Regions from separate parts of the Homo sapiens genome. Here region 1 is linked to region 2. Evidence: fine-mapped expression QTL. A gene starts in region 2. The other region holds a variant in brackets. All regions are shown on one strand. Distances are between the middles of the regions. Region 1 overlaps SMCO4 (single-pass membrane protein with coiled-coil domains 4). Region 2 holds the start of SMCO4 (single-pass membrane protein with coiled-coil domains 4).

What was found.
Region 1: its variant is fine-mapped to the expression of SMCO4 in whole blood (INTERVAL, PIP above 0.99).

The regions. Positions count from the first base shown.
Region 1 is chr11:93,494,939-93,500,318 of GRCh38, reverse strand. It overlaps SMCO4 (single-pass membrane protein with coiled-coil domains 4), which reads left to right. Exons shown (of 3, transcript NM_020179.3): 2 at 971-1,043. Among named protein-coding and RNA genes, the nearest start is that of SMCO4, 46 kb to the left of the region's middle. The variant A/G (reference allele first, on the strand shown) is at 2,183.
Region 2 is chr11:93,540,616-93,545,995 of GRCh38, reverse strand. SMCO4 (single-pass membrane protein with coiled-coil domains 4) reads left to right here and starts at 2,605. Exons shown (of 3, transcript NM_020179.3): 1 at 2,605-2,720. RefSeq lists silencers at 2,405-2,534, 2,695-2,744, 2,875-3,114.

The DNA of each region.
Region 1 (5,380 bases), 46 kb after region 2:
CACTAACATGAACAAAGTCATCTGAGACCATCTGGCCCAGTGGAGCAACCAGATGCCTATAGCCACATACATAAGCCAGGCAAGACCAGAAGAAAAAGCCCAGCTGAACTCAGCACTGATTGCTGACCCACCATACCTTGAAATGAAATGTTTGTTTGAAACAAAACAAAAAGCACGGTAAACCAAGATTTATCTTTACGTATTTTAGTAATGATAGGCATTGTACCATTACTCAATTATGTCTTGCTTGTTATGGACACTTTTTGGAGTCTCCCACCTTTTTACTTTCAAGGGAACTCTTATTTATTTTGCTTTATGGGTAATACCCATACTAAAAGCTCCTTTCCCCCAGTATCTGGGCTTCCAACTTAATATTTAATGCCACTGAGGTTTTGAGTTAATTTGTTGGCTGTCCTCTGTGGCTGTCACACATCTCTCTTCCTTTCCTCTCTGATGTTATGGGACGGTAGTTCGGATGCCTGGGTCACTTTCTCATCTTTTATTTTTCCCAAGGCTTTGGTTTAAAAGCCTCTGTTCCTTCACCTTCCGCGTTTGTTTCTTTTCTAATCCCAAACCTGTATCCTTCATTTTTAAATCAGTGATTTTTGATTGCAGGGAACAGCCATGGTCTCATGGCGGCTTAAGTTAGCAGCGAGTTTGTTGTAGAAATCCCAGGAATACAGGAAGCAAAGCTTGACTGCCTGCTGGGCACAGGAGTGGGAAGGCCCCTCTAACTCCATGCAGGGGCTGCTTGGTCCTGTCCATCACGCACATGCACACATGTGCCAGTGTATCTGTCTGTCTGCCCTTCTGGAGCAGGGCGGTGACAAGTGTCTATCCCTAAGCCAGTTGGGAGAGGGGAACCGTGTGACTGCCCTCTCAGCATGGGCTGAGGGGGTTCCAAAAAAGGAGTCTGTGGAGGGATACCTCCCCAGCAGCTATTATACCCTTTCTTCTAATTTCTCAACAGGAATAACTCAAGTCACCTGTACTGGAAATCAGTTTGCTGAAATTAATCAACGATTCTTGAAGTTGAAGAAAAGGTAAACATTCTCTTATAAGGGAAACTCATTGTCTGGGGAGAGGTTACTGTCCCAGTCATTTCTCTCATATGCCTAGTTTTGTGTGTAATATTTTACCCCTTCTCTCTGCCTGGCCAAGTTCCTCTTCATCCCTCAAGATCTTTATCAAATGCCACCTTTGTCCTTTGTGGAGGATCTCCTCCAGGCTGCGGGTGATTTCTCCTGCTGTTGAACCCCCACGACACTTTCTCCTTCCTGTGATGTTTGTGTTCTCGTTTGCCCTTCCCCTGATGGTCTCACCCTTCCTCTCTTGGCCAGTCGGGTAGAGGTCTGTGACACACCCCCCATCATAGTACTTACTTCCACGCTTTATTCTCGTTGCCTGTTTTTGTGTTTTCCCCAGTAAGCTGCTTAAGGGTGCATCTGAGTTGTGCCTGGGACACAGTCGGTATTCCATAAATGTTTCTCGAATGACTCATGAAGGAGCCTCTCCACAAGAGGCCTGCTCCTGTGTGGACCCACATTGTACCCCCACCACGCCTCCCTTACTGGGCCTGTACTAGGAATCATTCTTAAATACATTATGATCTTTGAGCATTCATCCGAAATTCCTGATCTTCGCCAGGTGTCCTTTGGCTATTGGTGAAATGAAGCTAATAGCAAAGCTTTTGTATCTGATACTTTTTTTTCACATTTGATTTTGGACCCATGTTAAGAGCAGGAATCCAGAAGTGGGGAGGGAGGTGACAGGCAGAGCTGGATGCCAGTGGTCACTGGAGCACAGCTCCCCAGCCCCCTTCTCCGCTTGTGGCGGGTGTGAGTGGGGGTTGCATGTGGGGGGCTTTAGGTCTCGCTGTGGTTGTAGCCCCTCCTATCTGCTGCACAGGTGGATCACCTTCTCCATCTGTGCCATGCTCTCGACTGCTTCACTCAGTGACTTTGTGTCTTAACCCACCTCCCTGCCCCCAACCTTTGTCCTTTAAATGAATAAGTCAGCAGGTTCCTTTTCTCAAACTGTTTACTGTAACTGCTAAAGATCCCATAAAAGTTTCTTATTAATTTTATGAGTTTATGCATCATAGCCAGAGGGACAAAGCATAGATTGTGGGTGTTCCCAGAGATACAAATTTCCAGAGATTGTTTTGCGTATTCATCTGCAC[A/G]TTGTTGTCTGGGTTTGACGTGTATTGGGCTTCAGTGTGAGGCTTTTAATATGTATATCCTGTTATCAATTAAGAAATTATCCAAGTGGTTGAATCCTGTGAGACTTCGCAAGTGTGTGCAAATCTAGTATACTTGACTTTTCAACCTCTTCTTTCAATGTAACTTTTATACAAAATAAATAATCAACTGACAGTTCTCAAAAAAAAGAAAATCAGTTTAATTGGTCACCATCATCTTGGAAGACTTGACTCAGCCCTTTCTGCCTAACAGTAACCAGCAACTGTCTCTCACATTTGTAGAGTGCTTTCTCTTTTGCAAGGTGCTTTGACACACGTCGGCAGATTTTCTTCTCCCACCAGTCCTGGGAAGCAGGCAGAGGCAAGTGGTAACTTCTCATTTTCAAAGTTGGGAAATAAGCTCAGAAGTTCAATGTCTTGCATAACATCATGAACTGATGTGAATGGGGTTCAGTTCCCCCCAACCATCTGATCTTGGTACCCCCCTTTGGAAGCCATGGCAAACTAACAGTGTCACAGAACCGTCTCTACCCTCAGTGTTCCTTTGAGGGAGGGGAGTCTTGACCTTCTGTTGAGAGTCTGACCCTGGTGCTCCCTCCACCCTCAGCCAGGCAGCTTTCTTGAAAAAGCAGATATGTTCCTCCTGAGACCTTCCAGTCAGTCTTGAAAGTTTTGTTTTTGTTAAGGCTAATTTAAATACAAGAAATTTAATTAGCTTACATGAATGCTGCATTGTCTTACTCTGAGTAAACTGGAAGACACTAACAGGTTTGATCAGCTTAATTCAGCTGTATCTGATGATGTTCTTTCGCTTCCTTCTCTTTTAAATCATTGCAAATGGTTTCTATCAGTCAAGGCAGCAGAGCACAGTGCTTTATTGCCATGTGGAATTGTTTAGTTAACTGTGATTTTTAAAAAATTGCTCAACTTTTAATGAAAGTGGATTGTCAGGTGACATTTTGATTTGTCCTTTGATGGGGAAATGGGAAAATAGAACCATCATAATAAAAAACCAGCTTCTATTCTAGAAGGGGGGCTATTAAAAGCAGGATGTGATTTCAGTGAATTGTTGTTTTCCTAAAACAGGCCACCATCTCTGGTCTTTTTATGTTGAGAGACCTTCCTCTGATACTCTCTTAGATTAACATTTTCCTGTGGGAAATTCTAACCTGGAATCCCCCAAACAGGTTACTCCCCATAGTGTAAGCGTTGGGGCCCAGGACCAGATACCAACACCCTTTTACTGGGAATCTGAAGCATCAGTATCGAGAAATCTGCAAGCCTATCGTGATGCTTGTAATCAAAGGAAACAGGCTTCACATTTTACTTTTAGTTGTGGCATGATGCAAGCACCATTTTACTGTTAAGGTTATTGTTTTCTTAACCCCAAAGCTGGATCTGCATTAGTGAGGATCCTCATAGAGGCTACCCTCATGTGTCCTGGCTGAGTGGGGTTCCAGGTGCTCCTCAGTGGTTGTGCCCACCTTGAATTGGCACAGTGGCAGGACCTCCGACACCATGAGAGGATAGACAGGGGTCACCTCTGAGGCTGGCCCCAGGACTCCTCTGTGTTCTATAGCATTCTTACACCCTTTATGGCAGTTAGCAAACTTGGTATCTCATGGGCACCTCAAGCTTACTGTGTCCAGATTTTAACTCTTGGTCTACTTCTACCATAGTCCCTTTCTAGGCCTCCTCCCTTCCCCCATCTTATTAAGGTACGTAGTTGTTAACTCACTTTGTCAGGCCAGAAACTGGTACTTCATTTGTTAATACTCATCTTTTTCTTCCCCCAAATCACCAAATCCTAATGATGCCTCTCCTAAAGTACATCTTGAATTCATCCATGGCCTTCCTGTATCCGCCCCCCAAGTCCAAGCCAACATCGTCCTTTGCCAGGTGACTGCCAAAGCCTCTTAACTGACTGCCCTGCCTGCTTCCCCTTTTCTTCTATTCCTCTCATCAATTTGGACCCAGAGCAATCTTTAAAAATTCTTGTCAAATCATGTAATTCCCTTGCTTGAAACCTGTTGGTGACCTCATCCTGCACTTGATGAAACACATAAGCCCAGTGCAGCCCATGGAGTGGACTGCACTGTCTGGGCCCCAGGCCTGGCTACAGAGGCACAGCATTGTTGGCACCATGTTGTTGTAGCTTGTGAGACATTCTCCCCTTCACTCTTGACTTCCTAGGAAGATTGCAGTGACTTCAATTTTCCAAACGCAATAAAATAACTCAGGCTCTCAAAGGTGTACTTAGAATGAATATTGTGTTCTGGGAAATGGAACAAGGAGTGATTTGTTCCTCCAAACACCAGAATAACAACTCCTAGAACACAGAGGTGGACCACTATTTCATTTGTAACCTTAATAAGTTAATAGCCAATAAGTAATCAGCTGAAATTGCAATACTCCTTGCTACTCCCCAAGCAACCTCCCCATCCCCCACCCACATATTTTGACATAAAAATGTGCAACAGCATTTTAGCTCATGAAATCTTGAATGAAACTTGGTTCTAGGTTGGTACAAGAAAAGACTGGCATTCTATTATACAAGGGAAAAAGAAAGCTAAATATTAGCATACAGCTTTCCTTTTTAAATATGTTTTTCCTATCTTGAAGCCGATTTGTTTTCCTTAGTCTTGAGCTTTACTCCTGTGTGTGTCGGAGGTCCTGCGTGTGCTGCCGTGCACACATCTGAAAAGCACGTACCTGAATTTCATCTTAGGCATGATACTCTCCATTCTCAGGCCTTCCCCAAGGTAATTAATGGTAATATTGAAACTCCAGCTGGATGTTTGGTACACTGTGGCCTGATGAGTTACAGCAAAGTTTGTAATGGGAATACCAGCAAAGGTGATTTTAATAGTGTGATGAGCGTTGTGATAGAGTTTATTACCCAGAGTCCTGGGAACACAGAGATGGCCCCTCACTCACCCTGGGGGATGGAAAGTCATGTGACCCTTGAGATGGGTCTTGAAAGAGATGCCAAGTACCAACTGCTTGTTACTTTTTTGCCAAGCAGAAGGAATGCTTGGGAGAATAGGGGTGCAAAGGGCATTTCAGACAGCTGCATGGATAAAGGCCTGGGAGGTCAGCAAGGGTGTGGCATGCCAGAGAACACTGAGGAGGGTCGCTGCTGTGGTGGAGGGCACGGTGGGGTGGGAGTTGAGTGCAAAA
Region 2 (5,380 bases):
TCATGTGGCTGAGAGCTGGTGGGCTGCATAGCTGGGACAGCAAGGCTTTCTCTTCTCAGGGTCTTTCCTCTTCAAGGAGTTGGACCAGGTTTCTTCATGGCAGTCTCAGGATAGCATTTCAAGAAAGCAAGGAGCAAGGCACAAGTGCACATCGAAAGCCCCTGCTTGTGTCATATTTGTTCATGTCCCAGTAGCTAAAGGAAGTCACAAGGCCAACTCCAGGGTCAACGTGGGAGGGAGCTACAGAAGGACAACTCAGTAGGGGTGATTCATTAGAAGCCATTAGTGTAAAATGTGTAAACTTTTCCTCTGAGACTTGCATTGCAAGATACACAACTCTAACCTATAAAGGATGACACTTTCTTTTTCTTTTCTCTCTCTCTCTCTTTTTTTTTTTTTTTTTTTTTGAGACAGAGTTTCACTCTTGTTGCCCAGGCTGGAGTGCAGTGGCATGATCTCAGCTCACTACAACCTCCGCCTTCTGGGTTCAGGTGATTCTCCTGCCTCAGGCCTCCCAAGTAGCTGGGATTATAGGTGCCTGCCACCACGCCCAGCTAGTTTTTGTATTTTCAGTAGAGACGGGGTTCATCGTGTTGGCCAGGTTGATCCCGAACTCCTGACCTCAGGTGATCCACCCACCTCGGCCTCCCAAAGTGCAGGGATTACAGGGGTAAGCCACCACGCCCAGCCAAGGATGGCACTTTCACAGACACAATATCTATGTTATTACTACTATAAGGGAGCATGTGGAGTCACCTTATTAAGGGACTGAGTCCTACATCAGTGGCTCTGCTTGCCTCATAAAATTATTCATTAATTTTTAGCAGTGGCCTTGGGAAGTTGTGTACATAATATTTAGAGGAAAATGGCATTTACAATGATAATGAATTAAAGCAATTCACACGGCAGTACCACTGCCCCAATTTAAACCTTGAGGCTTGCTAATTTCATATTTAGCTGCATCCCATATGCTCCCAATCCCTCTGCCCTAGTGTGGAGCTACAGCTCAAACTCCTTTGAAGGTAGGAAACTTACCTCACACACGCGTGTTCCCCTCATTCTTTCAGCGCATAGAACACTAAAAAGATGCTCCTTAAATACATGCTAAATAAACTGATCAATAGTTGCCTTTTATTAAATATCTTTGTGTTTCAGGTATTTCCTTATTTCCTTCACAGACCGGATCATGAATGATCTCCCAATGTGACAAGGTCTTATTCTCCACAGTTTACCGTTGAGGGGACTGAGGTGCAGAAAGCCCAAGGTGTATGCAGCCCAATCCCCTCTGATCCCACTCTACTGCATTGCTGCCTTTTGTACGCAGCAGGAAGGACACTTCCTGTAAAAATGAAAAAAAAAGCCTTAAGTTGTTTGAGAGAGGGTCAGGAAGAAAACAGGAAGAGCCAGTAGACTGCAGGTGCTTTCAAAGGGCTCCCTGTCTTTGACATCCCTAAAATAAAAACTTGTTAATTAAGAGATTGGCCACAGAAATCCAGGTGGAAAACCTGCAGAAGAGTGGGTTCCACAATTCTTCAAAACAGAACAAAAAAACCCCAAGACTTGTTATATTTTTACCGGTGGAGGGGAAGAGGTTACAGGAGTGGCCTTGCTCCCCGGGCTGGCCTTGCTGAGCAGGTGACAATACCACACATATAAAGGTTTTAAGGTGAAAAGGTAGTCAATATTTTACATTTCGAAGATAGTTTTTAAAATCACCTACTGCATCAGTAGTAATACAACAATAACTACCATTTACATACCACCGCACACATCGGGGCTGCGTAAAGAACTTTATAGTGCACCATCTCAATTAATTCTCACAACTCTGTGAAGTAGGTTTTATTATTCTTAATTTATAGACGTGTTCACTGTGGGCCAGGGAGATGAGCTTTCCCGCGATTGCCCAGCTTTTAAGAGGTAGATCTCAAACCTAAACGTGTTTGACCAAAAGCCCTGAATAACATTTAGCCGTGGGCCTCTTGCGGATTTGGCGCTGGTCCGAGGTGGGGAATTGTGAATCTCATTTATTTATGCTGAGCTGCGCACACATATGCACGTGTAAGTTACAAAAAACAAATCCAGGTCAGGATCTCTGTCCGCTTGAGGTTTCAAAGCCTACTTGGGTAGACAGCGGTAAAAGTCTCAACTCATTCATCTACTCGTTTGCTCTCTTCACAAGTATTTATTGCGCACTTCAGTATTCCAGACAGGGCGCTAACCTTGCCCTGGAGGAGAGAATGGTGAACACAACAGACATGGCGTTTGCCTCCAACTATCCCCTTTCCGATTCTGCTATCTCACGGGCGAGGCGTTCAAAGAAGCAGGAAATATATCAACAAGGGGGTGACTTAAGCACCCGCTGCGCGGGAGCCGGAGGAAGCGCGCTGAGCCTGCAGAGGTGGTCAGGGCGAACTTCCTGGAGGCAGCGGCAGCAGCAGGCCGGGCGAGAACCCAGGTCGCTCGGAAGCGACAGTCTGAGCCGGGAACGGGGAAGAGGGGGCGGGAGCCGAGGCCCGGGCGGGGGCAGCCAGCGAGTTAGGGTTAGGACGGGAGGATTCGGCTTCCCGGCGGCAGAGGGCGCCTGGCGCTGCGGTCTGGCGCGCCAGAGTCGCCCGCGCGGGCGCCGAGAGGAGAGGCGAGGCGGGGAGCGCAAGCGGCGGCGGCCACTGCCACGTATTCCCGGCAGTGGTGGCGGCGGCGGCGGCGGCGCCCGCGGGCAGGTGGGCTGGGAGCGGCGCGGCGGCGGCGGCGGCGGGGCGGGCGAGCCGGCGGGCGGGCGCGGGGCACGGGGCACCGGGCACCGGGCGGGGGTGCGGCGCCGGGACAGTACGGTTCCCGCCACGCCGGCTCCGCCTCCGCGCAGTGCTGCTGACCCAGGCCTGGGCGCCCGGCGGGTCCCGAGCGCAACTCGTGCGGGCGGGGTTGGGGGCCCGAGGGACTCGAGCTCGCCTGCCCGTCGCGGCTCGAGACGCTGCATCCCGGTTGCTGCGGGGCGGGGGCTGGGAAAAGTTGGGGCGGACCGCGAGCCCGCGGGGCCGGGCGGGAAGTGCGGGTGCGGGGCGGACTCAGGGGCCGGGGGACGCAGTGCAAAGGGCTTGGGCCGGGGCGGCCGGGAGGGCCCCGTATGGGAAGGTGGGAAACGCGGGTCCTTTGAGGACGCCGAGAAAGGGGTGCGCTCAGGGTCTCTGGGAGTGGACAAGAGTCCGGCGGCGGACCTTGCGGGTGAGAAGGGTCGGCGCCTGGGGGTCGGGGAGTAGAGGTGAGGCGGGGGCGGGATAGAGCCTTCCTCCTCCCCCGTTCTTTCGGGACCGACCCTGAGACCCGGGGCAGGCTCCGAGCTGGGTACGCCTCTGGCATCTGAAGACCCAGTGGGGAGTTCCTGTACGGGGTGGGTGGAGGAGGGAGCTGAGCGTTGCTTCCTCTGCTGCTGGGGCCGACTACCGCCCCTCCCCAGCGGCCAGATTCACCTCAGACTGCAGTGCTTTTGCCCTGAGGAAGTTGAGGAGGGACAGCTGAGCGGATGAGATGTTTGGGGTGTTCCAAGATGAGTGGGATTAGGCTGCATGATATCATAACTATCTCCGGGAGCTGTCAGAAAACACTCCCATGTCCTCATACACCCACCCATCCACTCATCCAGTCAGTACTGCCAAGCTCCAGGCTCCCTTGCTCTTTAAGTGACACCTCTAGATCCCCAGAGCCCAACAGCGCATCTGCTCACAGCCTCGAGGGTGGCAAGGGTGGAAGACATGGCCTGCTAGTGTCTGCGTAGGTTGGTGCTTTCAGAAACAAGTGGTTCTGGAGGTGCTGGATGCTTTATTAGAACAACCTGTGTGGAGCCCGTTGACAATGCAGATGACTCATGTTGGCTTTTTTTTTTTCCCCTTTACAAATAAACTTTGTATTCAAGACACCAGTATGCCTGGTCATTTGCAGCAGTGATACGGCAAGAGACCCATAGTGGGCTTCTTGAGCCCTTATTCTCGTCCTAGATGTGTTAGCAAGAAGTTTGACCTTGGATGAGTCACTTGCTCTCTCTGGACTTCTGTTTTCTTATCTGTCACATGGGGTATAAAGAGAGAGCTCGACAGTGTGATGTAGACAGGAGTAGGTTTCTGAGGGACACAGTGAAATCTTTTTTCTTGTAAGGCTGGATCAGCCACAGAAAATAAGCCTTAGCCTGTTCTTATAAAGAAATTAGCTTAGATTTAAAATAAAATATGAGAAGAAATATTGCAAAAAGCAAAACAACAAAAAACTAATAGTAGTTGGTACTCGATTTACAACATGAATACTGTTCTTATGCTTGCAGTTAGTGTACTTGGTTGTCCAGCTATCTACTATAAAGTTGCTCATTGTGCTTAGAAAGTGTGTATTTCACCTGTGGACCCGAATTTTTTCTTATTGTTTAATCTTCAAGCTTGGAGTGGACGCTCAAGCTTGGAGTTGGATTGGTCCTGCTGGGGTTTGTCTGAAGAACATCCTCAGGGTCTCTCATTGCATAATATTATAGGTTTCCTTCTGTCTGACTGATGCTGGGGTCCTTGTACAACTATGCTTCTGCCATCTTTTCCATTCTGGCTTGAGAAGTGGTGAGCTGGTTCCTCTTGCCTCTGGCATGCCCAGACTTCTCATTTCTTTTCAGATGAGTGTAGTAAAAGGCAAGCAGTGAGTTAGAGGCAGCACATTAAAAATTGCTCCAGGCAATCATCTGTGTCCCCTCCACCCCGCTCCTGTCCCCTAGACCCCCTGGGCAACTTCTCACTAGAGCTTCCTGGTCATAAGCTGGCCTTGACATTTTGGGTGCTGAGGGCCATCACAGCATTGAAGTGACTTGGCCAGGGTCACACCACACATTAATGATCAAGCCATGGTGCTGGAAGAAGAGGAATTTTTTTTGTGTGTGTATTTTGTCATAACTGAATGTTCCTGTTCTTGTCCATTAGTAGCTTTCAAAATCCATATTGGGTTTGACCACATCATTTTCAGTAATCCTTTTTTGTCAGCTTTTTGGAAGCTGCAGTTAGTGGTTCTCTCTGAGTTTGAGGTAGTGGTATTTTATTATTAAACAATTTTTTCCAAATATTTTTTAAACTACTTTCCTTTTCAGACCAGATGAGGTAGTGTTAAAAATGATATCTTCTCCAACAAGTAAAGGCTTGATTAATTAGGTTGAGTCTTTAAAATATCTAGTGTTTGTGTGTGTATAAATTTTACTTTAATTGAGAAGTATTGATAAAAATCATAATCGTCACCATTTGAGCCCCTGCCATTGAGCAGGCATTGTGAGGTAGGAGTGAGCATCATTTTACAGGAGAGAAAACAAAGCCAAGAGATGGCACGACTCTGGTACAGCTGTCGTGCATAAGTTACTGATGAT